Linked DNA regions of Homo sapiens: regions 2, 3, 4, 5, 6 and 7 are each reported to be linked to region 1. Evidence: microRNA targets listed by miRTarBase, many of them from high-throughput screens and not tested one by one. Region 1 holds a microRNA gene; each other region holds the end of a gene's coding sequence.

Region 1 (4,070 bases):
GCTTCCTGAGTGGTAGGACCCCTGCCGCCCTCCCTGTCCTAGGAGGCTCCTGAACCCAGGCACCTCTCTGAAGGGTGGCCAATCCTGAGGAAGAAAGGGACCTGGACAGCCATGGGGTGGCCGGGACGAGCCCCTTCCTCTCTGTGCCTTGGTTTCCACTGTGGGATAAGGGGGCCTTAGCATCAGCGCTCAGAGCTGTGGAGCCAGGATTCCTGATCGGGCGCTGTCTCTGCCAGGCCAGGGCACTTGGACACCACGCTGCAGGAGGCTGGTCTCGCCCAGGCCTCTGTGGGAAGGGCCGCCAGGCTGAGTGGAGGGCCAGCCACCAGCTACGGTGTCTTCCTTCGCAGGTCTGTCCCCCCAGGCAGAAGGATTCCAGCCCAGGGATCCCCCATCCCACCCTGACTGCATCCTGAGAAGGGGGGACGCCACTTCGGGAAGGTTGTTGGGGCAGCACAGGCCCTGGGGCCCTGCTCTGTGACCTTGGGCGGCCCCCTCTGTCTCTCTAGGCCTGTATGCACCACTGGCAAAGGGGGCAGGGCCCAAGTCTACTCTAAAAGCTCCCCTTTCTCTCCAGAAGCTTTGGAGTCTCCCAAAATGCCTGCTGGGTCTCTGCAGGACTGGCACCTGTCACCGGAACCTGTCTGGGAGGGACGAGAACACGCTTTGCAAGAGGAAGCTCTGCCTCACAGAGCCCTGGGCTCACTCAGGGACCCTGGCCAGCAGCTGCTTCCTCTCCCCACAGCGGAGAGAGACCCAAGGGTCCCAGGGCGGATGCTTCCCACCAGGCCAGCCCAGCGTGCAGGGTGGCCTCGTAAGTCCTGATTGACATATGGACAGTGGTTCAGAGAGGTTACGCTACTTGCTCAAGGTCACCCAGCTCCCAGGCCCCTGCTGTCTTCCAGGCCACTGAGGTCCTAAGCGTCCTTCCAGGCGAGCCACTGCTCACAGCCTGTTCCTCATGTTCTGCGGCAGGTTTGTGTATCTACATCTTTTCCAGTTCCCTGTCGTCCCCCTTCCTACACCTCGTCATCCACTATCCCTGTTTGTTTTCTCTGTTCCTTTCTAGTTCTCTACCTGCTCCTCTTATTTTTATTTGAGACAGGGTCTTTCTTTGTCACTGAGGCTGGAGTGCAGTGGCACAATCCCAGCTCACTGGAGCCTCGACCTCCCAGGCTCAAGTGATCCCCCGCCTCAGCCTCTTGAGTAGCTGGGACCACAGGCATGCATCACCACACCAGGCTAATTTTTTATTTTTTGTAGAGATGGGGTCTCACTGTGTTGCCCAGGCTGGTCTTGCACTCCTGGGCTCAAGAGATCCTCCCACCTTGGTCTCCCAAAGTGCTGGGATGCCAGGTGTGCACCGCCATCCTCGGCCTTACTCTTCTCTTCCTCTCTCAGCCCCTCTGCCTCACTATCCCTCTTTCTGTGCCCTCCCCCACACAGCCCCCCACACTTCTTCTTAGTCTCATCTTCAGCTTCCCATACGAGGCCATCCTCATGAAATCAGGCACTGGGAGGTCCCTGGGGACTGACAAGTGCCAGCTGTCCCTTGCTGTCTCTCTGCCCCATGGCTGCAGCAGGGAGGGTGGGCAAAGGGCAGAGGTGACAGTGGCCAAACCTGAAACTGAGGCCCAGCTCTGGTTGGGAAAGAAACAAGGAAACAAAATAACTTGGGGACAGAGGGCGTGGGGTCATCAGAGCGGGCAAAGGCTGCCCAGGAGTTGTAAATCCGAGCCGCTCCCGGCTTTATGAGGCCGATTTGGGGTTGAGCCTGGACTTTGCCCAGGAAGGAGTGCTGGCAGCACACGGGGCGCCAGGTGTGGGCCCCGGATGATAAGAAGCCTCGGTGAAAAGACCATGGACCTGGGGCCACGAAGACTGGGGAGCCCAGGTGAGTGGGCATGGGACACTCTCCAGAGCCCTGCCGAAGGCGGACGCCAGGCAGGGCCCCGGTCTCCAATTGGTTCCCGCCCCCTGTAACAGCAACTCCATGTGGAAGTGCCCACTGGTTCCAGTGGGGCTGCTGTTATCTGGGGCGAGGGCCAGTACCCACGAAGAAGGAGAGGCAGGTGCTGGCCAGCAGACCAGCCAGGACTACCGTGGCGACGCTCCCAGGCCAGATGGTGGCGGGTAGTGGAGGGCTGTCGGTGGGCTGCCGAGACCGAGTGCACAGGGCTCTGACCTATGAATTGACAGCCAGTGCTCTCGTCTCCCCTCTGGCTGCCAATTCCATAGGTCACAGGTATGTTCGCCTCAATGCCAGCCACCAGGACCTGCAGGGATAGGGGAGGGCCGGGGGTGTCCAGCAGTCAGCAGAGATCCTGCGACCCCAGTGCAGCACTCATGGTCCCACCTCCCTCTGTCTCATTCCCCGTGAATGAGCCTGAACAGCTTCAGTCCTGCCCCTGCCCTGCCTGCCCTGTGGCACCTCTATGCTTTGCCCATGCTGTTCCCTTGGGCTGCAATACTCTTCCTAGCTTATTTGCCAGGCTCACTCTTACTAACCCTTTCAAGCTCTGTCCAAGCATTTGCTGCCTCCAGAAGGCCTTATTGAAGCTTCTAAGTCCCCACCTGGGCACCCCCACACAGTGCTGCCGCAGAGCACTGCCCTCTCGGAGCCCCGGTGCTGGTTTCTGCTTATGTCTCGCTCCTCTCCCCATCTGTGAGCTCAGTTCCCAGCCCAGGCGCGTGCCCAATAAATGTTTGCTGAACCAATCCTGAGCCTCTGTCTTGCACCCTGAGGAAGCACCCACCGACATGCAGTGTGGCCAAGGGGGGCTGAGTGCTCTAGGCCCAGTGTTTGTGCTGGAGCCCCCCCACCCAGGATGGGGCCCTGAGCCAGCCTCCCCATCTGCTTCCTACTCTCCCCTCCTTTGCCAGTCTCATCTCCCTGGAGCACAGCCCTGTGGTTGGTGGAGCAGCTTCTCCAGCCCCTAGGATTCCTAAGAGGGCCCAGGACCCCAGCTGCTGGTAGAGGAAGAGCAGCCAACCCAGGACAGGACAGCTGACCCCACCCCTGTCCCGCCTCCCACAACAGCCTCATTTCCACCTATTTCTTTGTGGTGTTTGTTTGTTTGTTTTGAGACAGAGTCTTGCTCTGTTGCCCAGGCTGGAATGCAACAGGCTTCCTCCCAGGAGGAAGCCTCCCCTCCTGGCATGATCTCAGCTCACTGCAACCTCTGCCTCCTGGGTTCAAGCGATTCTCCTGCCTCAGCCTCCCAAATAGCTGAGATTACAGGCATGCACCACCATGCCCAGCTAATTTTTGTGTTTTTAGTAGAGACTGGGTTTCACCATGTTGGCCAGGCTGGTCTCGAACTCCTGACCTCAGATAATCTGCCCACCTCGGCCTCCCAGAGTGCCGGGATTATAGGTGTGAGCCACCGCGCCCAGCCCCACCTGTTTCTTATACAACGGGGTTCTGAGGAAATTTTCCTTTTTTTTTTTTTTTTTTTTTGAGACAGGGTCTTGCTCGCTTTGTCACCCAGGCTGGAGCGCAGTGGTACAATCACAGCTTGCTGCAGCCTCCACCTGCCAGGGCTCACACAGTCCTCCCATCTCAGCCTCCCAAATAGCTGTGACTACAGGCACGTGCCACCATGCCTGGTTAATTTTTGTATTTTTCGTAGAGATGGGGTTTCACCATGTTGCCCAGGCTGGTCTCAAATTCCTGGCCTCAAGCAGTCCTGCCTCAGCCCCCCAAACTGCTGGGATTACAGGCATGAGCCACTGTGCCCTGTCAGAATTTTTCATTTGAATAAAAAGGTTTCTGGTACTACAAAATAAAATTTGTAAAATGGGAAATAGAGACCTAGGAATAAATGTCAAATTGCTTAATAACAGGCGTTGGCTATTGAGCCCTTTCTGTCTGCTGGGCACGCACATCCAGGACCTGGTCCTCCTGGCATCCATCATGAACCTGTTTGGGACAGGAGGACACAGGCTCAGAGAGGGTGCACATTTGCTGAAGTCACAGAGCAAGTTGGACCTTCTCCTGGGGACTGTAGGCAGCCAACAAACATCTGGCCCCTAAGACACTGTCTCTCTCCCCTTCCCACAGGCAGCTC
Region 2 (4,070 bases), not on the chromosome of region 1:
GTGAAGCTGTGTATGTGTATGTGTGTGTATATGTTTGTGTATGTATATGCACATATATGTAGAAAAAATATCTGGAAGTGGGATTGGGGAATGAGAAAACAATTTTACTTTTTATCTTCATGAGAGATAATATGGTGTAATGCTTAAAAGCACAGACGATAGAGTCAAAGTTCCACTTAACTACCATTTACAAGTTAGGAGATTTGGGGTAAATTTCAAGCCTCCTGGTACCCTACTTTGCATATCTGTTAAATGAGGGTAATAATAGTACCCATTTCATGAGTTTGTTATGATTGTTAAATAATGTATTTGAAGCGTATAGAATAGTCCCTGGCATATAACTAAGCATTCAGTAAATGTTAGCAGCTATTATCATTATTATTCTCTTCTGTACTGTTTGGATTTTATACTATGAGTATGTTTTATTTTCACAAGAAGTAAAAAATATGTCTATAATCTATCAAACTGAAGACATTTTCAACTTGATTTTTAGTTCTCAATTTTCCCTTGGTGCTTTCTTTCAAAGGAAAAGACCAACAGCAGAGATATGCCTTTCTCATTCTTGGCTACAGCAGTGGGACTTTGAAAACTTGTTTCACCCTGAAGAAACTTCCAGTTCCTCTCAAACTCAGGATCATTCTGTAAGGTCCTCTGAAGACAAGACTTCTAAATCCTCCTGTAATGGAACCTGTGGTGATAGAGAAGACAAAGAGAATATCCCAGAGGATAGCAGCATGGTTTCCAAAAGATTTCGTTTCGATGACTCATTACCCAATCCCCATGAACTTGTTTCAGATTTGCTCTGTTAGCACTTTTTTCTTTGACTCATTTGGACTGAATTTGAAATTTTATATCCACTCCAGTGAGATTATGATTTGTAGCTTCATATATGACATGTTTATATTGTAAATGCACTTTTCCATGGAATAATTTAGGGAAGTGTTTTAATGTTAAATTACTAGTTGCTAGCATGTTATGATTTCATATCCTGAGATAGCTCTGCAGATAAGAAAATATTTAAATATATGACAAAAAGTAAAATTGTACATGTGAGTTTACATGTTAATGAAATAATTCAACTTCAAATGAACTTACCAGAATGTTTTGCATATCAACAAAAAAAGTGGCTTGAGTTTTATTATAGTTGGTGTAAACTGAACACAGTGAAGACATTGGAATTTAATAGGTTCTCTCTCTAAGGTGACTCTTATACCATGCCTCTATCAACATAATTTGTTTAGGAAAGCAGTATGAAGTTTAAGCCAAAATAATTTCTACTTTATAGATGCTCAAGAGACATTTTACAATTGAAAATGTCTTTCAATTACAAATATTTTGAAACTTCGTAAGATTTTCATTCTCTGTGGTCTGTTATATGAGAGAGATCCTTTAACTAGAGCAAAGAGGGAGTTAGAAACCTGATCAGGGATATTCTTTACAAGTTGGAGCAGAGGAAAGAGTAGCATGCCTTCGTATTTTAACGCAAATGTCTTTTTCCTCCTCCCAACCTACTTGAGATCTGATAAGGTCTGGAAGATGGAGATATTTGGTATGCAAGTGTAGAGTTTTTTAATCCTCCAGAATTTCTAGAGTAGAAGATACTTAGGTATAGTTAAATATTCTGTATTTTTAGTCAAACATATTTATTAATTGAATATAGAAGAAAATGTTGACACACTCAGACAGCTTACTGAATTTTAGATGTCTTCTGCATCTTAGAATACAAGCCAGTCATTCAGAGTTCTAAAAGTATGCATAAAAAATTACAGCACCGGTAGGTCTATTAACACAGTGCCCGAGTCAGCGGTAGCAAGACTGATGTGATCATAAAACATGACATCAGGCTCGTCTGAAGTTCTTGTGTGAAATTCCTAGTGAGTGAGGAGGCTCAGCTTAAAGCCATCTGCAGAGTGGCCCCTCATTGTGGTCTTTTGCTGGGACCAATGCAAGAGACTAGGGAGAGCAAAATGTTTGCTTATGGCTAGAGACTATATCCAGCCCTAATGATGGGGAAAGTTAGTCCTTTTCGGGTAATCTTTTATGAATTTTCACCTGATGACCGTTATATTGGTCTGTTATCATGTTACGATAACTGTGATCTCATGACCATGTTGCTGTATCAGAAGAAATAGTTTGACAAATGGTAACAACAACCTGATGTTCCCCCTTTAGACCTTTAACTTCTCAAAATTTTGGTAAGTTTCCAAATTCTTTAATAATAACTTAAAACTTTTTGAATAACTATCAGGTCACTTTATTTGACCACATGGTGAATTCCTTTAATGTCTTCAGCATTTGTTAAGGAAAAGTTTTCTCTACTTGTGTGTGTATGTGTGCACATGTGTGTATGTACAGGTGTATGTATATATCTATAGATAGATACAATACATTCTTTAGACACTTTTCAAGATTCTTTGCTGTGGTATATTGTGCTCAACTCAGGTGCCAAAGGAGCTTTTTTTTTTTTTTTTTTTTTTTGAGATGGAGTTTTGCTCTGTCTCTCAGGCTGGAGTGCAGTGGCATGATCTCAGCTCACGGCAACCTCTGCCTCCCGGGTTCAAGCAATTCTCCTGTCTCAGCCTCCTGAGTAGTTGGGATTACAGGCGCATGCCACCGTGCCCAGCTAATTTTTGTATTTTTAGTAGAGACGGGGTTTCACCATGTTGGCCAGGCTGGTCACAAACTCCTGACTTCAAGTGATCCACCCGCCTCGGCCTCCCAAAGTGCTGGGATTACAGGCGTGAGCCACTGCGCCCCCGCCCAGGAGCTCTTTTCTTATGACATATAAATTATGACATTTATATTCTTTATATGACTTTATGTTCTCTTCTTATGACATTTAAATTCTTTAAGTAGTTTGTTGGTCCAATAAACTAGACGTTGTATAATCTAAATTGAGCCCTTGTATATCTAAAACTGATGAGTTGTTTCTAAATTGTTGATTGTCCATTTACTTGCCTTTGGTATTAAGATAATGCAAGTAAAGTTTAGTAAGTCATTGGATAATGAAATGATTATGTTTCTGAAGACCATATTATATTTTTAATTTTTAGAGGAATCATGCCATCCCCCAAAAAATCAAGAAATATTTGAATTTTAAATTATAAGTTCATTTGTTAAAAGACATTTTTACAAATGTCTGAAAATCTTAAAATACTTTACATCTACCTTTAAGTAGTAGAATACAGAGCTGTAAATTTCCATGCCTTTTTTCCTGATATTAAGTTTTATAGTAAAAAAGCAACTAGTGATTGCACAAAGAATATAAAAATCCACTCTTTTTACAAAGGTGTGAATTTAAATAACGTTATTGATTGGAATATGAAAATAGACCAATCATTTAAGAGCTTTTTAGCAAATGATTCAATTCTTACTCTTTTTCTCCCAAGATTGAAAAGCATAATGTATTTCTCTAAAGTAGGAATCTAGAGAGCCCCTGTGAGTGGACAAATGTCAGTAACACTTGAACACATGAGAAGATAAGTGTTATGTTGTGATAATTTAAAGTTAAATTTGCTTTTTGGGTAGGATCCCTAAATAGATGGGATTTTTAAATAGATGATATATAGATGACAATTGCAATTGTCATTTTAATTATTTTCCCTACAGTAAAGAACCTAGCTCTGAGCAGTGAAATTGTAATGGCACTTTAAAGGAAGTAAGCCGTTAACTGTTCTCTAGTGGAGCGATCTCCAACTGTTTTGGCACTAGGGACGGGTTTTGTGGAAGAAAATTTTTCCACAGGACTGGGGGTTTAGGGGGATGGTTTCAGGATGATTCAAGTACATTACATTTATCATTAGATTCTCATAAGGAGCATGCAACCTAGATCTCTTGCACGTGTGGTTCACAGCAGGATTCGAGCTCCTTTGAGAATCTAATGCCATGGCTGATCTAACAGGAAACTGAGCTCAGGCAGTAATGCTTGGCACCGCCCCCCACCTTCTATGCAGCCCGGTCGTGGCCTGGGGACTGGGGACCCCTGCTCTAGTCAGTAATAAGGTACTTGTGCCAGAATATAAATCAACACATTGCTTCCTTTATCAAAGAAGTCTTGTTATTTAAAAAAA
Region 3 (4,070 bases), not on the chromosome of region 1:
CAAACAGATCGTACCACACTGAACGCAAGTGCTTTAAACTGTAGGAAAAGTCTGAAAGTAAACCCTAGGTAGCTGAACAAATGATGCTTCCTCCAGATGTTATCATTACACCTTCACCTAGGTCACAACTCACAAGATTTACTATATTCATGATCATGCTCACTTTTTATTATTTATTTATTTATTTATTTATTTATTTATTTTTGCTTAAGGACACATTTTCTTATTTCTCACTGAGAGCATATACCTAAGATTATTTAGGTCTTTAGATTTCTCATGACTGTTTTTGGATGGCTGTTTGCTTCTTGACAATTTCTTCTGGTCTGTGTGTTTTATTCTATTTTCCTACAAGACAGCTTCCTAGGGTAGTGTTTCAGTCAGACATCCTCAGTACCATCTTAGTTCCTCCTCCCATAAAAATAATGCCTCCCTTGTTTTCTGAAACTCAGGCAGCAGGCCAGTCAGAAACCATACAGAAATGATATCTGGAGATTCAGAAAGAGCAGTAGATTTTAGATTGAAGCTACAGACGTTTTAATACACATAAATTTATATAGTTACTCATTAATTTATAAATGTGTCCTAATGTATAATGCATGCAAAATTCACTTGAGAGTCTTGTGTACAGAAAACAAATATGGTTTATATACTGTACAACCAAAATGAAACCATAGCTGAAAGAAACACAACAAAAAAGAAATAAAGAATAAAACTCTAAATCAGTATTTTACCTTGCCAAATGGACTGATTTCACTCCTGATAGTATCTCTGTGTTACACTTACAATAAACGCTTTCATCTTCTAGTCAGATTTAAGCAGCCCATATTAATGCCTTAACTTTGCTTTATGACATAACAATATTTAAGACTGGTCCATTATCTGAGTTTGTCAGAAGGCAAATTTTTAATATATTATTTATTATGTTCAGAAAATAAACATGGACAAATATACAGGATCAAAAAAGTTGGGAATAGCCCATTTCCCCTCATTGTCCAAACCCAACAACCGTTTTTTTACCGTAACAACAGGTATAAAAGGCACAGTTGCTTATTTTGCATTCACTCATTTATTTTTTTTGTTTCTTTTTATTGATTTTTTTTCAAAAGCACTCTATATATGGAGTGGCACCAGATTTAACCTATTTAAAATAAAAGTCATACAAACACAAAATATATTTCTGTGTCATGCCAGCTCATTATATAATAAACATGTTATGACAGCTAATTCTACTAGAATTACTGTGAATACTTACAGTACACTGAATTTTATTCTTTCACATCCATTTTAGTTTTAAAGAGAGGTTCACGAGTTAAATGACAATGGCATGGCTATCTTGAATGGGGTGCAAACATCATTGGGGAATGTGGATCCAATTAATCCGAAGGTCCGGTGTGACCCGTATTAGTTTTATAGACAAGAGAAGGGTTTAAGATAGGGTGAAATGAGCTATCAGTGGTTTCAATGTCTCATGAAAGAAAGAAATGCATTAAAAAAAAAAAAGTTTGTCAAACATCCGTGTTATGCAATTGAGTATTTTCTTTGTAACGTGCAAGAAAAAATGTGTATACATTTCATAAGTATCTTTAGAAGTATTTTGTCTTAATAGGTACTTACAGATTATACAAGGCAGAACTGCTTTAATGCAGTTTCCTAACAAAGTACTAGAATTGCATCTTTCCATAGTGTAAATAATAATCAAACATAAACATGTTCAATTACTGATATTTTAGTCCAATGTTTTTTGTTTCAATTACATATCTTTTTGCATCCTACCTATTATACATAAACTAACATCAAAATGAAAACTCCATTTAAGAAAGAGCATAAGGAAATGACCCCCAAATTGTACCCCACCAAACAGAGAAGCGGTTTTCAAAGATAAGTATTTTGAAGACCTATAGTGAATTATCAACCTATATTCCAGGCTGTGTCACTTTATAGTCTAAGAAATTCTGCAAAGCATGAAACTACCCAAAGCTACATTGTTTCTACAGTTTGCTAGAGAGCCATCAAGGCTATGCCTTAACCAGCTTGCAAACATTCAGTGATAAGTTTGTTCTCTTCACACCTGTTATTCCCTATTCTGTCCATGGATTGTCACTTTCGTCTGAATGTCCCAGCTCAATTTTCAGCCGTGTTAGGTTATCCTCTATAGAGTGAGTAGCTCAAAATCTGCATATTCTGTTTCTTTTTATTGCACTGGAAAAACTCTGCTTTCACCTTTGAGATATACATTCTGTGAAAAATGTCACTGCCCAAAACTCCTTTCTTTCATGTTCAGTCTAGATTTGTTTAAATAATGTTCAAATCACATTAGTGATAAAGTCAACTAGGGTGTCACCTTGTTTCAATGTTGTGAGTCTCAAAATATTTCTATATTGCACACGATTCAAAATTAATGCACTTGTGGTGCATCAAAGTGTGCACTGAACAAGTAAAAAATGCAATTGTAATTTAAAATGTGGATAAAAAGAGCAGCAAGCATAGCCTGGATTCTAAAATGATAATCGTGGACTTAACTATCAAGACTATATGCCAATGCATCTTTCTTAACCTACCCATGATCCATAAATACTATTTTAAAACATGGAATCTTCCCTGATAATATTACCTGAAACTAAACTTGAACCTCAACCAATTGCCTATTATAATACCAAAAATATATCTCACTAGTTTTCATTTTCTGCGCTTTCAAATAAAATCCATTTTAAAAGAAGGAACATTTTCCTGGGCACTATAAAATGAACTAGTGTTTGATTGTTTCTGTGCATACATGGGTTCAGTTGCTTTTGTTGTTTAATGGTTTTCCACGTCAAGACCAAATCAACTTCATGACTTCCCTGATCTGCCATATGATCTTTGGCCTTTGGATGATACAATTGTTCAAGTTAGTTAATAATAGTGGTCTTGTTCTGAAAAAATATATATAATTTTTAGAAGTCATAACTGGTGAAATTGATACATGTAATCAAGACTGTGTGTATACTGAGAATATTTGGTGAATGTATGGAATTGAAGTTGATGCTCTTGACCTGAAAATAACAACATATGACAATTTAGGACTGCAATCACCCACTGAGTATTGTTTTTCTCTTAGTCTTTGTTGGAATATTAAAGCTTTGATATTCCCAAAATACTTTTTAATACAGTCCCTCTTTCTAAGGACTGTACCTTTAGAGGGACTCTATCACTTTCAAAGGATTGCCTTTGATGGTGATAAACCATTTTCTGATGGTATGTCTGAAATACATTTTATCTGTCCTGCTTATTTTTGACCAGCCAGATGACACTCGAACAAAATCAAAGTGACTAAAATCATGCTTCAGCTTAGGGATAATGAGGGTGTGTTGTGTTCTGCTAATCAGGCTTCGTACAGTTACTGTGAAAGAAACTTGCAACTATCCCCCTTTTTTTTTCTTTTCTTTTTGTTTTTTTTTTTTTGGAGAGGGGTGGGGAAGAGAAAGTGAGTGTTGGGAATCAGTGAAGGGGTTAGACATGCAAGTAACAAGGATGGTTTCTACATTGTACAGTAGAATCAGGCTAACAGTATCACTAAAGGCCTGATCTGGAGGCAGAAGTGGCAGGCAAAGCTTTGTCTCTTTGGTAGCCCCCTCTTTGTGATTAAACGTTTTGCTTTGTAAGGTTTTTGCCCCTTATTCTCCTTTTCATACATGTAAAGAACTTTGCTGTTGCTCCTTTATAGCCTACAGGTAAACTTCTCTTCTAGTGAGAGTATTGACAGGAGATGGCTTATATTCCCCTGTTTTTGTAAGGGGAATATCCTCAGGGTTGGCTTCCTCATTTTTGCTGAAACTAGCTGCACTGAAGGTCTCATAGGATGAGGTCAACTTTTTGTTCAGGAGGTTTCTGTTGCGGTCACCCATGATGGCGGCCTCCCCATTGGCCAGCTTTTCCTGGCTTCCTCGTTCATCAACAGGCATGAAAGTGGACAGTTTAGGCTGGCTCTTCTTCCTCTCCGGAGAAGTGCGGACCGGCATCCAGCAGGAGTCTGAGTGGCCATACTCATCACACTCACGAGTGCACTTCCCAGTCAGGGCTACATCTGGAAG
Region 4 (4,070 bases), not on the chromosome of region 1:
TTTTTTTTTTTTATGGGCGTGGTGGTCATGATGTCTTCTGTTAGAAAGAATATTGGGAAGGAAACTAGCAGTGTCTGCCACAATTCACATAATGGAATATCATATAGCCATTACTTTTTGAAGAATATTTATTGACATGGGAAAATGCTCACAATATGTTAAAGAAAGCAGGATACAAATCTGTAAATACAGCATGATCCCAATCTTGTAGTAAAATAAATTATATATGCATAGAAAAAATACAGGAAGGAAATACACTAAAACATTAACAGTGATGATCTCAGGATGGTGGGATTTGGGGTAAATTATTAATTTTATTTTCTGCATTTTCCAAACTTTCCACAATGAACATATATTACTTTTATAATCAGAGGGGAAGAGGTCAATACAGGTGACACCTAGTCCTGGGAGGTGGCGAGACTGATGTGGCACTAAGGGGGTGTTTAGAGTCACTTGTACTGCCTCATTCTGTGTCCTCATTTATAAAGAAGGGATAATAACACCTGCCCTGCCTGCCTCCCAGGACTACTGGGCATCTGAAAGGGTCACAATATCTGGTGATTGTTCCTCTGTAGCAGCAGCTCAAATGCTTTATTTTAGGACACACGCCTCCGTACCCTGCTTCCAAGGTCAGGAGAGTTGTGGGCAGAGAGGCCAGCCTGCAGCCTTGGTCCCTGGCCTATCCTAACGGATTCCAGGTCTTCATTGGAAATCCAGTGCTGACCATGCAAGTTTCCCACTCATACTTCCACTTCAGGTCACTTCCCTGCTTAAAAACCTCTTTAAACTAGTTCTGTTGAAATAGTTATTGCTTAAAATGGCCTGAGAATGACCACCCTCCTCACACCACTCTGTTCCCAGCATTTCAGAGCCCTAAGGAGGCACAGTGTGGGCCCAGGTGTGCTGTGGGGAAAAGGAAGGAGTGGTGCTGGGAGTCAGGCCACCAGAGTTGGACTCTTCCTTGCTGTGACGTGGGGTAACTTTCATAAGCTTTCTGGAGAGGATCTTTCATATGCGATAAGGTGAGGTTACATGAGATAACATACATCAAAAGCCCAGCATGTAGTAAGCACTTAACAGATATTAGTTCTCTTTCTGTGTGCCAGATGAAGACACTCTCATCTTCTTCCCCGCAAACTCTCTTTTCAAAAACAAAGCTTAGTGCCCAGTGCAGAGAAATGCAAAATGAAACAGAACTCACTGAAAGCAGAAGAGCACAGCTACTGAAACAGGACTGTTCAAACACTTACTCTGCATAAAGAAAGCTGGTAAGATGGCATTTCATTAAACACATCTTCATTTAGGTAAGCTGACATGCATGCCAAAGCTATTTGATTATAGAAATTATAAAAATACTTTAAAAATGCATTTGTAGAATAACAAAAATACTTAAATTTTTTCTAAACTTTTCACTTAATCTAAAATTATGAATTGCCCATTTCTTTTGCTGTTGGTTAAAACCTGGGTCACTCACCTCTCCCTCAAACATTTTGGATGAAATTCTAACATCTATTGTCTTCTTCCTACCCTTTTATAAAGCGTTCTGGATTTAATTTCTTCTTTTAAAAAAACTCAGGGTCACCATTATAGGAAGTAGTCTACGGGCCATACTGTTGTACACACATTTTCTGGGTCAACTAGAGTATCCTTTGGTAAGTAGACAGTCCCAGATTTGCTATGTCTTGAAGTTTTATTCTTCTCATCTCACTATCTAGTTTTCAGTTGGCCTTTTTCTTCTTTCAGTATGCCTGCCTTCAATCTAGCAGCCTCTTTCTTTGCCATTCTTTTGTGAGCTTCAAAGCCAGCTAATAAAACATGTTGGAAGCGTATGCAAATTTCAGTTCAGAGTCTAAGAGTGATATTCTTGAAGATCTCTCCCATAAGTAAGTTGCAAGAAACTTTGTGACATCTCCTCTGGCAGCTGAAAGGCCTTTAAGACGTAATTCCTGATTTTTTTGCTTTGCCAGAGAGGTAACTTCTGGATAAATGACCTTTTCAGTAACCCTCCATGTACTCTACCTGTCCTTAAAAAGGCTATTAGAAGTGGGACCATGGATGTAAAAGCACTTTAAAAAAGCATAAACTGTGAAATAGTATTGTTTAGCCCATGTATCTATAAAGAAACACACACAGATGGCCAAATTGAATCAACCCCAATGTTTTATTTAATTTAAAGTTTTAAAAGGCAGTGGTTAAGCACATTATGTATATATGTATATATATGAATGTATGTACGTGTGTATATACATACATATATATACAGGAAACCAACCCCTTTTCAACTTTAGCCACTGATGAGCTAGGCCCACTGTCTAGTGCATGACTCACTTTCTACTTCTTCATAGGACCAATTCTAAAAGTAAAAATAAACACCCTTTATCAGTTTAACAGTAACTAATTGTGTTTCTTTTTTTTAAATAAATAAAGTTACTATTAAACTGATCACATATGGTAGAAACGTAGAACTCACACACACACCAGCACACACAGTCCCCAATTTAAAATGTGATGTATGAATGACCTATATGTACAAATGGGTGCTGCTGACTCCCCCACCCCAAGCAGAGGCCATGAAAGAACTCCCATTACTCAGGGAGTCCCCATTCTCTATGCTGGGATGGAGGATGTGTGTGTTCCTGGCACCCCGGGTTAGACCTCAGAATGCACACTCCCCATGCGCTGATACAGATGGTGGTTCAGTTCTATGGTACTAGTGTTCAGGTACATTAGGGAATAAATAGGCATTTGTAGCTGCCTGAGAACTAAACCATCATTTATAACTCTTTATAGGGAGAAATGTATTCTGAAGTTTTAGCTAACTGACATACAAACTTTTAGAGTATAATCAGTTTGTAAGTCTGAGGCTGTGTGTGTGTTTCTATATATTTATACAAAATTGATATGAAGAATGGGGCTAGGTTTATGGAGCAGCTGCTAGGCTTCCATTTGGTGAGTTCTGATCTAAGAAGTCGCTTGCCCAAGGCTTTATTTACCAGCTCTTTCTGCTTCTCACGTGCCTCTGGCTGCTGGAGAGATTCAGAAGGGGCCACTCACACAAGTGAGGGGAAGGACATGGCTAAATCTTCTGCTAGGGATCTTGGCAAAAAGAATTGCCAGATTCAACCAGGGCCGCTTTATAGAATAAAATCCTTCAGTTCCATCCCGATGAAATGGAATTTTTTTTCTGCTTTTAGCCCCCGTAACCCCGTCTAACTGCAGCTCTGTATGAATGCCTCAATATCACAAAAAACACAGGGTCACCTCTTAAATATGCTGGATTCTCAATGAGTAAACCAGTTAATGTGTTTCTAGCCAAAGCAAGGGCATAAATGTTTTAGAGAAAAGATTCCCCTGGAGCTACAGAGAAAAGATGCTGATAAAGCAATATTGAGAGTTGAGCAGGTGATGCTTTTAGTCTGTGTCAGAGCTGGTCTCTTCGATGACAGAGTACTGGTTGAGTGCTTCCTCCAAAGGCGTTATTGTCCCATCAGGTTTTAGTCCCATTGGTTTAAGCAACTCCTCTCTAGAAAAAGAGATAAAAGAGAGAGAAAAAAAAGTATTCACCAGCATCACACACACACCCCTCCCCCCCACCCAAATCCACAACCTTTTAAAAAGAAAAGTCTTTAAAAACCAAAGTATTTTCCCTTGAGCTTTCTCTGTGTGTTTGTAATAGGAAAGATGAAAGGGGCATGGAAAGAAAAAGAGGGAAGAGGGAGATAAAAGACTTCATTCACACAGGCCAAACCTACTAAGCCAATTAAAAGTATGAAAAGTCAAGGTCTAAATGGGCTCAGGACAAGGAGCAGGTCTCTTCTGTTTTGAATAATTAACCTTTTTTTTTTTTTTTGGTGGATTGGTTTTGTTTTAGACAAGTTGAAGCTGCCAAAATTTCACCTGCCCCAGTGGTTGGAGCATACAATTAAATGGCTGATTTGATATGCATACACTTCATTCAATGGAATAAATCTGTCGGTTTTGATTTTGCCTCAGTCTCTAGTGATATGTAAGTACATGTTGATTCATTTCAAATTAGTTGGCCTTCCCCAACTCTCTCCCCGACTTTTCTT
Region 5 (4,070 bases), not on the chromosome of region 1:
TGTAACAAATGTACCACTGTGGTGACAGATGTAGGTAACAGAAAAAACTGTGCATGTGTGTGGGCAGGGGGATCTAAGGAAACTCCACGTACCTTCTGTTCAATTTTTCTGTGAACCTAAAATTGCTCTAAAAAATAAATTCTATTGAAAAAAGTAGAAATCATAAAGAAAAAAGATAGTCACAATAAAGTTAGTTTTTTATTTATCAAAAAGTACCACCAAAAATGGGAAAAGACAAACCACATTGGTCTTGATGGGAGAAGATATCTGCAAACATTAAACCAACAAGAACTGGTATCCGGAATATGTGAAGAATCCCTGTGAACTGGTAAAAATGAACAAAAAGACTGGAGATAAATCATAACTACAGTTCATGCCTAAAGCCCACTAAATTGGCAAGAATTAATAAGCCTGACAAAATTAAGTACTGTCAAGGATGCAAAATGAACTCACCCAGTGGTGGAAGGTGGTCCACTTTGGAAAGTTAAACATGTGCACAACCGATGGCTCAGCATTTTTACTCCTGGAGAAATTCTGGCACACTTACAGGAGATGTTCACGACAACACGCATGCAACAGCAAAAGCAAACCACAAAAATCTACACAACCCAAATAGTTACCAACAAGAGAATATAAAAACAACTTGGAAACAACCCAAGTATCTAGTAACAGTAGAAGAAGTATAGTAGTACATTCATACTGAAGGGGTTAAAATATGCCATTCCGGCATACTATTTAAATTAAAGACACATGAAAAACAGCAGGTGCAAAAAGGTGATTGACCTTTGTGCTGTTTCTTAAGAGCAGGAGATGGATTCCAGTGTGAAAGACACTCTCTATACTGGAAGAAAAGGCAACAAACATCTTTATCTTCAATGACGAGAAGTTTGAGACCAGGAGAATATTGTACAGACCTTGTTAGAATAACTATTTTTTAAGGCTCCCGCAAAATACAGTCACATTTTCACAGTTTACTAGTCTTTGTCCAATTCAGTATGTAAGTAACTGACTCTACTTCTTTTGGTTTTATTTCTTTATGAGGGCTCCTGCACCACATAAAATTTGTATTACATCAATTTATATGCTTTTCTCTTGTTAATCTATCCTATGCCAATTTAATCTTCAAGGCCAGCTGGGACCCTGAGAAGATGGGAGGGAGTTTTTCCCCTCCCTACAGTACAATGAAATACTACTCAATAATAAAAATGAACTAATTTTGAGAATAATATGAGTGAACCTCAAAAACACTGAATGAAAGAGAATATATAATGAAATAATAATGTATATAAATTCAAAACCAGGCAAAACAGTCTATTGGGAGATACGTAACTGGGAAAACTAAGAAGAAAAACAAGTAAAAACGATCATAAAAATCAGAGTGTGACTGTTATGGAGAGGGTGAGCACAGGTGATCAAGAAGGGGCACAAGGGGCCTGTCCCCTGGTAATGCCCCATATTTTAACGTGAACAGCTGCGGCACTCGTGTTTCATTTTTAAAGTACACAATTACATGTTATACGTAATGTTCTGTCTTTATGATACTTTACAATAGAAATAAATTTATCACATTTTCATTTAACTTTTGGTAATAAAATACTTTATTGGTACCATTTAATAAATGTCAAAAACGTATAGCATTTCCATTGCTTAGCTTCCATCTTTAAACTTAAAGCTAGTTAAAAACAACAGGAACAAAAGTAAACTCATTTGATTCTCTCAAAAAACAAGCTGTAACTTACCTTTGCAAATAATTAAGTTCTCTCACTTTAAATATCGTAATTCACTGGTCTTCATAATAAATAATTATAATAATATATAAAAGGAGACAGTGGCCTGAATTATTTTGCAGAGAACATTTCACACATCTTTTAAAAAAATCACTAAACTACCACAACTTAAAACTTGTAAGAATAATTAGGTAAGAGTTATTGTAATATTGAATTAATATAGCACCTAGAAATTTGAAATTTGTAATATTTCAGATGATATGATTTACTGAGAAAAAGAGTAATGATTTTTCTTCAGTGAATTTTCAGGGGTTTTCAACATAGGTCTCTTTTAAAAGGGTTAAAAAATTTATGCATACTAGGAATTGACCTGATGGTAACAGATCCATGTGTGACAAATAATGTAGTGCAGTCCTATCTGAATATAATTTCTTTTTCACTTTGTCTCATTAATTTATACCTCAATTAAAACATTCTATATGCAAGTGACATATTTCTCTAAAACATTCCGTATTTCAGATTTCCATTCAGACTATCTTCCCCTCCTCCCTTTTCTCAAATCAGAGTGATCTTGTGGCATACCATTTGCTTTTTCTCTCCACAATGAAACTCTTTTTCAACTCAAAGTATTATAGTAATGCAAATACAAATGTAGCATATATTAATATATTAGAAAAAGGATAGTAAATACATATGGATCCATGCCAAATTAGAAAATTGAAAGCAAAAACAAACAAAACCATGCTATGCTCATCTATTCTGAACCACCATGGGAAGACCCTGATAGAGCTGGCTCAAATAAACTAATGTTCCCAGACAGAGCTAGGATCCTGTATTCCAACATAATTAAATGCTCTGTTAAAAATGTTTCCGTGTTCTTTTCTGTTTGTTCAAAATAGTTTACAGCAACTGACTACTAATCCTAATCCTGAACATGATAATGTAATAACATATTTTTAATCAAGCCATAGATTCTAACCTATTTTCTACTATTACCCATTTGCTTAAAAACAGACTTTCAGGGGTGTAAGCAACAGTAAGTTAAGGAGTTTTTAGTTCTACCTTTCTCTTGATTGATTGATTGGGGATTTCAGATGTGTCAATTAATTATCCTCTATTTCAGTGGAAAAGGATTCTTCAAGCTATCAAGTCAAGGAGGCTGACTCAGGGGCGGGCAGGTGAAGATACCTATCCACATACTATGCTCATAACGCTCCATCTCCTCTGTAAGAATGTGCTGCTCTCCACCCAACAGTGGCCCAGCACATTCCATCCGCTCCACCTAGATGCAATCAGGACACCATGCAATCCCACACACAATCAGAACATGGGCACCAGGTAGAACTAACTCAAAACAACTTTTGGGACAAATATGAGATTTCAATTTGTCAATTATTCCATAGTGCAGTATTCTCACAAAACAGAGATTTTGTGTTGAAACATTTGTTTTTTCTTCTCACATCAAGTTGAATTGCTAAAGTAATGTCAGAAAGAACATGAAAAATAAACATGTCTTCTCCAAAAGAGGCACTGCATCTGGAAGTAGAAGTAAGGCTAAATAAATAGTGCTGTTTTGTGGTTCATACAGTAACGCATTAATTATGATTTCAACCAACAGCTTCACTGTTTGTCCTGTATGCCTGTTTATGAAGATGCGTCTCTATTTCCTCCCTGAAGACCAGCATTCCCAGGTGGGAGTGAGAGGCCTCATTCATGGCTTTAGACTGGATGCACATGCGGTACTGCTCGGGGGTCAGCTCATCAGCACAGCGCTTTTCATGCCAGAGGTGGAAAAGACCAGGAACCGGAGTCCGAATCACAATGAGGTCACCATGTAAGTATTTTCGATAAAGATGAACATCTTCTCCACCCCAACCTTTCACTTCCATGTCAAATCCACCTGTAAGATCAAAATTGACACTATAAATAACTGCCTATTATTAGCCAGAGCACAGGGATATATATAAAATTTTAAATGTTCTGCTTCAAAAGGGATGGGATGGTTCAGCAAAAAGGTAGCACGAGACACCTGGCATGGAGGAGTGACTCCCAGTCACCGGAAGTCCAGTTTTGAGCTGACACTTGGACTCAAGGAGCTCAAGGTTGGTTGTTGACAGTATCAAAATGGGGTTAAATATTTAAGAACACTTTGTAAATTTCAAAGTCCTGTAGAAAATCTACAAAAAGTCAAATAAAGGAGAAGAAAATACAAGTCACCTATAATCTCACCACCATTAACTTTTTATGTTTTCTTTTTTTTTTTGTTTTTTTTTTTGAGACAGGGTCTCACTCTGTCACCCAGGCTGGAGTGCAGTGGTGTGATCATGGCTCACTGCAGCATCG
Region 6 (4,065 bases), not on the chromosome of region 1:
TTGTGTCTGGCTTCTTTCACTTAGCATAAGTTTCCAAGGCTCATCCACATTGTAGCATGTGTCAGAATTTTATTCCTTTTTTATTGCTGAGAGTTTGTATTTTTCCAATAAAATTATTTTATCTTTTCCTTTTTTTTCCTTCTTCAGAATCCCAAAATTCTTCTCCTAGATGAAGCAACCAGGTGAGGATATCTTAATAATATATGCCATTGTGTGTATTAAACCAAATTCTTCCTTCACCAAAACACTTTTAATTCTGTACCTCAAAGTGATACAACTGAAAATCCTTTTTCCCCCCTTTACTCTAAAGTGAGGGAAGCTGAATTAATAATGACAGTTGAAAACCAGTGGGCAGACTGAGTCCTAGTTGAGAGTTCTAGGTCCACTTCAGACATGGTTGCCATCAATCCTAATCACTCTGTAAGCTGTAACTGTGCAGAATGCTTTTCTCCTTACATCACAGTATAGTTTTATGGAGATCAGAAAGTCCTAAACAGTTGAAATTTTGATCATGGTAAAAATTCATTGCTCAGGAAGGGCTGCTGTGTGTATCAGGAAGCACATGGGTGTCACTGACGTCTTTGCTTTCTTGTGTGTGTGCTCCTGTGTCAGTGCGCTGGATGCCGAAAATGAGTACCTTGTTCAAGAAGCTCTAGATCGACTGATGGATGGAAGAACGGTGTTAGTTATTGCCCATCGTCTGTCCACCATTAAGAATGCTAATATGGTTGCTGTTCTTGACCAAGGAAAAATTACTGAATATGGAAAACATGAAGAGCTGCTTTCAAAACCAAATGGGATATACAGAAAACTAATGAACAAACAAAGTTTTATTTCAGCATAAGGAAGCAATTACTGGTAAACAATATGAGACTTTAATGCAAAACAGTGTTGCAGAAAAAAAACTCAGAGACTATGAAATACATAAACCATATATCAAGTTATTTGAAAAATACCTATTTTTTTCCAAAGTGTGTAAAAGATTGTTTTGAAACGTACCTGTTCTCAAGATCTTTTTATTCAGAGTTTTAATAATTGTAACTTTTTAAATGTCTATAGCACTGAAGTTATTTTCAGGTTTTGTATTTTCTTTTCTTGTGGAATATTTTAATTAATATAGCATGGCACCTCATTTTCTTTTGCCTGCTGTTAAAGATTGAAGCTATTGTCAAATGACAACTTTAAAAAGGCAATTATAAATAAAAAGCCTGATTATTTTAGGCCAGTTTACCAATCACTGTGTAATTCTTCTGGTAGTATTCTACCTACTTTTAAGTCTAATTTTACAGATAGAATAATGGAAATTGAAAATTTAACCCTTTATTCCGATAATCTCATGAAGCAAACCTAACTATTTAACATCAGCTGGAAAGAAGGGAACATTTATATTGCCCATCTCCTGTGTCTTCAAAGGTGTGAGAGCTGAGGAATATGTGTTCCTATGGGAACTATGTTTGAATATGTGCAGTTTTCAACATTTTGGCACATGAAAGCCTGACAAGTTTTTAAAAGGGCAGAAGCTTTATTTTTTGAACAGGAAAACATGTTTTTTAAATTCACATGTTTGTATGAGTACTTTTGCGAAGCAAGGCATGAACTGCTAGGTATTATTAAGAATGAATGATTTTTGCATTTAAGTTGTTTGAAGGCATGTATTTTGAAAAATATCTGTTACAAATTTATAATTTCAAGACAAATTGAATCTTATTTTATAATACTTTTGGAATTTCATTAATAAGGCTAAAATTTGAGGAATATAACTAATTTTCAGCCTTAAGACATTTAAGTTTGGAAGTCCTTGCTATTCAACAGAATAACAAGAAAACTTCAGAATGTATCACTCTCCTGAAAAGAAGATATTAATAAGCCCTTTTATTTATGGTTATAGTTTTATTTATAGTCTCAAAATTCCTAAAGCAATGCTACAACCATTGAATTTGCCATATTTTGTATCAGTGCTGTTAATTTGCTGTTGCCTCAAGAAAAAGTGCTTTTTCTCCATGGATGAGGCTAGACCCTAAGAAGTAATTAAGTCAATGTAAATCAAATGGAAGTTTTCCCATGAACTAAGCATTTATTAGTTCCCTGATTAGACTGGAAGAAGAAACCACTATTTCATGAAAAGCATGGAATATTATATTTTATTGTTCATAATTAATGAATAAAATTGATATGAATGAATATAGTGTTCTTTGAATTAGTAAACAGTACATCTGTGACAATCATTTTTAACAAGCTCTACTTGTGTTCTTTATAAAGTGTGATTTTCAGAAAGCAAACAACACAATTACAAGGTTGAATCTGAGGAAAATAATCCTTGTGCCATAGAAGTATTTACGAAATTGCATTTCATTGTTATGTTTTATTTTCTGATACATGATGTTCAATTTTATCTTTAGGTAATATTTTATATCATAGATTAAAATTTATAGTGAACTTTATCTGTGTCTGTCACTTTTTTTTTTTTTATGACCCAGGAACCAAAGATGCAGTCTGTCATTTCTTATAAAACTTCTCACTACATTGTTTCTTAGTAGAATTTGGCTGTGGAGATTCAGGAATAAAGAAAAGACTAACATTACACATATCCAAAAACATGTTGTAATTAAAAGTTCCATTCATTCCTCCTTACCAAGTTTGTTGAATGTCATCACTTGTTTGCTACTTACAAATATTGTTTAATTGTTTCACTGCAGTAAATAAGTATCTCCTACCTACATCAGGGACAAGGAACTGTGCTGTGAAGTTGATAGATGAGTAAGCCACAGTTTCTGCCCTCAAGGAGCTTCTAGTTTTGAAGGAGTGGGAAGGCAGGGGAAAATTAATAACAAGAATGCAGCTAGGGATCATAAAGAGGTGTAGTTGTAACACTGTGTTCTGGTATCACTTTTTTGTTTCCAGAGTGTTTGCATGTTACATTTGATACTTTGACAAGCCTGTAATTTAGACAAATATTTATCTTCCCCATTTCACAGAGGAGGAAATAAGCGTAGGCAAGTTGTGAATTAATTCAGCATTAATGACATACACAGTTTCAGGCAAGAAGAAACTCAAAAGAAAATTTTCGCATTGTTGAGCTCAGCATTTTGTTATATACCGTCCCAGGCTTGTCTGTATGTTCAAGGTCTCCCCTGACCCTGGGCCTGACAGGTTCCCGAAGAATAATCACAAGTTAAACCATTGTAGGTCGAACCCTTGTAAATGCATTCTTATAAAAGTAGGGCTCCATTTTGGGAATCCATCTTTTTTTTTTTTCCTTTGAGACAGAGTCTCACTCTGTTGCCCAGACTGGAGTGCAGTGGCGCGATCTTGGCCACTGCAACCTCTGCCTCCCAGATTCAAGCGATTCTCCTGCCTCAGCCTCCGGAGTAGCTGGGACTACAGGCGTGCGCCACCATGCCCGGCTGCTTTTTGTATTTTTAGTTGAGACAGGGTTTCACCATGTTGGCCAGGCTCATCTCCGACTCCTGAGCTCAAGCGATCCGCCTGCCTCAGCCTCCCAAAGTGCTGGGATTACAGGTGTGAGCCACCGTGCCCGGCCTGGTTTTAGTTTATTTTTGATAACTTTGGCAGTTTTATAAAATAAGATGAATTCCCGGCCAGGCATGGTGGCTCATGCCTGTAATCCCAGCTACTCAGGAGGCTGAGGCAGGAGAATCACTTCAACCTGGGAAGCAGAGGTTGCAGTGAGCTGAGATCGCACCACTGCACTCCAGCCTGGGAGACAGAGACCTTGTCTCAAAAGTAAATAAGCGAAAAGCAGTACAAATGTTACAAAACAAATATAAATGAAATAACTATGTGAAAACTACATTGTAAAAGTTCCTTTGGAGTGTATTTCTGAGGCATCATGGGGTTTTTCTGGTCATCTGTCCACTGAATTCATTCAATAAACATTTACTGAGCATCTTCGATTTTGCTAGGTCCTGTGCTGGGTGCGAGCTGTGCCTCCCTCACAAAGCTAGTGCAAGGATTGGCAAACAGCTGTTTTTGTATAGCCTGCAGGCTAAGGATAGTTTTTACAGTTTTAAATTGTTGGAAAAAAATCGAGAGAATATCTCATGA
Region 7 (4,070 bases), not on the chromosome of region 1:
AAGGTTATTCCAGCCCAGAATTCAGCAGATCTGCCCGAGTCCACACTTTTGCCAAATAAGTGTTCAGGAAAAACTCAACCTAAGTATTTGAAACATAATCATATTTCTTCCAGAGATAATGCAGTATCTCACTTAGCTGCACATTCAAATTCATCCTCAAAATGTCCCAAGCTGCCTAAAGCAAATATACCTGTAAGACCTAAACCTTCTTTCCAGTCCTCTGCAAAAATGACAAAAACCAGTTCCAAAACCATAGCCACGGGTCTAGGAACACAGTCTCAACCATCCGATGGAGCCCCACAAGCAAAGCCAGTCCCAGCACAGAAACTTAAATCGGCCTTGAATTTAAATCAGCCAGTTTCTGTGTCCTCAGTTTCTCCTGTAAAAGCCACACAGAAATCAAAAGATAAGAATATAGTTTCAGCTACCAAAAAGCAGCCTCAGAATAAAAGTGCATTTCAGAAGACAGGACCCAGCTCCTTGAAGTCTCCTGGCCGTACCCCACTGTCCATCGTGAGCCTACCCCAGTCTTCTACCAAAACACAAACTGCACCGAAGTCAGCACAGACTGTCGCTAAGAGCCAGCATTCAACTAAAGGGCCTCCCAGAAGTGGCAAAACCCCAGCTTCAATCAGGAAACCACCCTCATCTGTTAAGGATGCAGATAGTGGAGATAAAAAACCTACTGCAAAGAAAAAGGAAGATGATGACCATTATTTTGTCATGACTGGAAGTAAGAAACCTAGAAAATAAATACATACTCATTATAAAAAAAGAGAAAAGGAAGAATGAATGTGTTAGCTTCACATCTTAAAAGTTTCTCCTATTTGTGTCTGTCTAAATAGGTGCAGACACTAAGGATAGTGAGGATGGAGGCTGGGATGAGGAAAGGGTTCATCAGAATTCACATATCTGAATTCACTGGAAAGAGCCCTTCTGAAGCAAACAGTTGTAAAATCACTGCAAGGTTTTTATTAATAATAGACATGTATATGATTTTCAGTCTATAGCATCTTTGTTAACATCTGCCTTTTGCAGGAAATGTAAAAGTTATTTAACACTACAAGAATTTTAACAATAGTTGCTCTATTTTTGAATATGTATTAAATATGGAGTTCATATACCTGCTAATATCAACGGTGGTGCTCTTACTATTAGTTAATTGCATTTTGGTTAAAAAAAAAAAAGCAACAGTTTGGCACTTGTCCTACAAAAGGCACCTAATTTAATTTTCTGATCAGGATTGCCTGATCCAACAGTGCTAAGTCATGGCTGCTGCTGACTAGCTTGGCATTATTCTGTGTTAGGTAGAATTCTTATTATTTATTTTTTTAAGCTTTCCAAATTGGAAGGAACTGATTGTTTCATGTGGCTTATATTTACATTGGTAATATTTTGTCACCAATATTTTTGGTTAAAAAAAATCCAACAAATTAACTTACTGAAATATAAACAAATTTTGTAAACAATTTTTTATATTATCTATAAAAACGTAGACACCTTATGTTTCACATGTTGTGCAATGTGACAGGGGAAGCTGATTTAGTAGCTTTTAGCATATTAAAAATAATTTTTTATAATGTAATTTCCTGTGAGTGCAGACCTGACATTTTACATTAAAATAATGTGAAACATCAGAATTATGTTTTAACAACTTTAAAATTAAGATGATGTTAAAATAATTTTAGAGTTATGCTATGTAAAAATTCTATCATGAAATTATTTTTCTCTAGATAGCACAATACCAATTTTAATTAATTTCTTCCAATTAGGTTACTTTTCTTTAATAAAGTTATGCTGCCTTCAGTTTTCCAATGGCAAGTAGACAGGATATGTTCAAGGTTTTCTGCACTGTAGGCACAGTCTCTCAAGCATATCCTGATCATGTAATGACTGCATAAACTCCATCAACCTAAGGTGATACTTGTAAATAATTTATTTTTAAGGGATGGTGACTTTAAAAATTATTAATGAACTTTGAGAAGTTTTAAGAGTGCTTTTAAAACTTCACAGTATTGCCAATTATCTTAGGTTATTCAGTATTCAGGTTTGTGTTTCTCTGTTTTAAACTAAAATGTGTTTTCTGAAGAAAAAAATAATAGTTTACACAAATGTACAATCATAGAATAAGCATTTTAAGCTGGCGACTAGTGTTCTATAGATTACAAAGCAAGAAAACTTTCTATGAAGATAAATGACCTTTTGCCTGAAGAGTACAGATAAAATCAAAGATGTGTGCAAGCTAGTTTTTGGAAGAAGTGATGCTTCTCTTCTTTAAAGAGACAGTCACCAAATACTTGGTTTAACTCGACTATTGACTTGGGCATTGAGAGAGATGATATATACATCTTTGGAAAGTGAAGTCAATGTTCAAGAGGTGATAGAAGCTTTACTTTTTAGTGATCAGAAATATTTAGTGCATCTTTTCAGACAGGAAGAATTTTATCATCAAGTATTCCCTTATAAAACCAAGTAACACTTCTTTATCAGTAACTTTTAGAACTTAAAAGAAAGCAAAAAGTAAATGGAATTGTAGGCAATTTATGAATCCTAGTAGATTTTACAATATGTAATTTATGTTGTTTACAGTATATAAACACTAAGTTTTGTGTTAAATGTGATCAGGAATAAAAGTATCCCACAGGCATCTGACACAAATTCCAGAATTAGCCAAAGAATTGTTTATTTGAGGCCAGGCAATCCCAGCATTTTGGGAAGCCAAGTTGGGCAGATCACGAAGTCAGGAGTTCGAAATCAGCCTGACCAACATGGTGAAACCTCTTCTCTACTAAAAATACAAAATTAGCCGGGCATGGTGGCACATGCCTATAATCTCAGCTACTCAGGAGGCTGAGGCAGGAGGATCGCTTGAACCCGGGAGGCAGAGGTTGCAGTGAGCCAAGATTGCGCCACTGCACTCCAGCCTGGGCAACAGAGTGAGACTCTGTCTCAAAAAAAAAAAAAAAGAAAAAGAAAAGAAAAAGGTTTATTTGAATAATTGGAAGTCAGTTTATACATTACTATTTTTCAGCAGTAGGGAATTTCTCCAATTACATTCATGTTGAATGAATTTTTATTTATATATAGCTTACCCTTCCAAAATAAAAGTGTTTTTTTAATGTTGTTTTGTTTTGTTTTGTTTTTTTCCTTTTTTGAGACGGAGTTTCACTCTTGTTGCCCAGACTGGAGTGCAGTGGCACAATCTCAGCTCATTGCAACCTCTGCCTCCTGGGTTCAAGTGATTCTGCTGCCTCAGCCTCCTGAGTGGTTGGGATTACAGGCATCCACCACCAGGCCCAGCTAATTTTTTTGTATTTTCAGTAGAGATGGGGGTTTCACCATGTCGGCCAGGCTGATCTCAAACTCCTGACCTCAGGTGATCCACCTGCCTCAGCCTCCCAAAGCGCTGGGATTACAGGCATGAGCCATCACACCCAGCGAAAAGTTTTGTTTGAATAAACAATATCCGAAAGACAATTAGTTTCTTCAGATGTATTTTGAAATTCTCCTAAAGAGCTAGTGTTTCTATTCATTTTCACAATTTAAAAACAGCTCTTAACATTGCTGAAGTTGGGAGAACTTTCCATCTCTTCTTAATAACAGTGCAAGATTTTGTAAATTCTTTTTTGTGTTTAATGTTTAATAAAACGAGTATTAAGCTTAAATTACTGAAGTACCTGGGAGAAGTAATGATGTGTACTTTCAAAAAAATGGAAAATGCTTTTATTTTATTTTCTATAATTTGTTAACATGATATGTAAAATTAAACTTCGGAGCACAATGAAATGCCGATTATTTTTACCTTGTTTGGGCTTAAAGTAGGTATTTAAGGTTTATGTGTTCAAAATGCCTTGGTAAATTGGATGACCTCTAACTTTACTGTCCATATGGAGTTTGTCATTCTTTATGGATAAGAGAACTTAAGGAAAAGTTACTGTTTTTCTTCAGTCTTTTTATATCTATCTGATTTAAAATCTGTTACTTTATTAAAAGGCTTCAACAACAGGTTGTTAGGATGTAGTCTTACATCCAGGTTCACATAATAACCCCATTTGAATCCAAATTTGTGT

The links. The annotated mature microRNA hsa-miR-192-5p reads CUGACCUAUGAAUUGACAGCC and lies in region 1 at 2,181-2,201, shown strand. An mRNA with a match to its seed (bases 2 to 7 or 8) in the 3' UTR can be bound and repressed. Matches are read on the target gene's strand: a 7mer-m8 pairs with bases 2 to 8, a 7mer-A1 pairs with bases 2 to 7 and ends in A, and an 8mer does both.
Region 2: miRTarBase lists STK17B as a target of hsa-miR-192-5p. The part of its 3' UTR that is shown has no 7-base or 8-base seed match.
Region 3: the mRNA of PCDH7 is a reported target of hsa-miR-192-5p. Seed matches in the 3' UTR shown: 7mer-A1 at 3,028-3,034.
Region 4: miRTarBase lists RIC8B as a target of hsa-miR-192-5p. Seed matches in the 3' UTR shown: 7mer-m8 at 2,518-2,524.
Region 5: the mRNA of CSGALNACT2 is a reported target of hsa-miR-192-5p. Seed matches in the 3' UTR shown: 7mer-A1 at 2,093-2,099.
Region 6: the mRNA of ABCB10 is a reported target of hsa-miR-192-5p. The part of its 3' UTR that is shown has no 7-base or 8-base seed match.
Region 7: the mRNA of GAS2L3 is a reported target of hsa-miR-192-5p. The part of its 3' UTR that is shown has no 7-base or 8-base seed match.

Annotation. Positions count from the first base shown.
Region 1 is chr11:64,889,334-64,893,403 of GRCh38, reverse strand. MIR192 (microRNA 192) reads left to right here and starts at 2,158; the gene lies at 2,158-2,267. MIR194-2HG (MIR194-2 host gene) reads left to right here. Exons shown (of 3, transcript NR_133640.1): 2 at 578-814; 3 at 4,064-4,070. MIR194-2 (microRNA 194-2) reads left to right here and starts at 1,965; the gene lies at 1,965-2,049.
Region 2 is chr2:196,134,186-196,138,255 of GRCh38, reverse strand. STK17B (serine/threonine kinase 17b) reads left to right here. Exons shown (of 8, transcript NM_004226.4): 8 at 527-4,070. The coding sequence ends at 809. Among named protein-coding and RNA genes, the nearest start is that of STK17B, 35 kb to the left of the region's middle.
Region 3 is chr4:31,142,484-31,146,553 of GRCh38, reverse strand. It overlaps PCDH7 (protocadherin 7), which reads right to left. Exons shown (of 3, transcript NM_001173523.2): 3 at 1-4,070. The coding sequence ends at 3,705. Among named protein-coding and RNA genes, the nearest start is that of LINC02497, 27 kb to the left of the region's middle.
Region 4 is chr12:106,885,357-106,889,426 of GRCh38, reverse strand. RIC8B (RIC8 guanine nucleotide exchange factor B) reads right to left here. Exons shown (of 10, transcript NM_001330145.2): 10 at 111-3,523. The coding sequence ends at 3,412. Among named protein-coding and RNA genes, the nearest start is that of TMEM263-DT, 68 kb to the left of the region's middle.
Region 5 is chr10:43,182,807-43,186,876 of GRCh38, reverse strand. CSGALNACT2 (chondroitin sulfate N-acetylgalactosaminyltransferase 2) reads right to left here. Exons shown (of 8, transcript NM_018590.5): 8 at 1,575-3,627. The coding sequence ends at 3,335. Among named protein-coding and RNA genes, the nearest start is that of CSGALNACT2, 46 kb to the right of the region's middle.
Region 6 is chr1:229,514,958-229,519,022 of GRCh38, reverse strand. ABCB10 (ATP binding cassette subfamily B member 10) reads left to right here. Exons shown (of 13, transcript NM_012089.3): 12 at 148-182; 13 at 613-2,441. The coding sequence ends at 844. Among named protein-coding and RNA genes, the nearest start is that of NUP133-DT, 8.6 kb to the right of the region's middle.
Region 7 is chr12:100,624,138-100,628,207 of GRCh38, forward strand. GAS2L3 (growth arrest specific 2 like 3) reads left to right here. Exons shown (of 10, transcript NM_174942.3): 10 at 1-4,070. The coding sequence ends at 753. Among named protein-coding and RNA genes, the nearest start is that of GAS2L3, 52 kb to the left of the region's middle.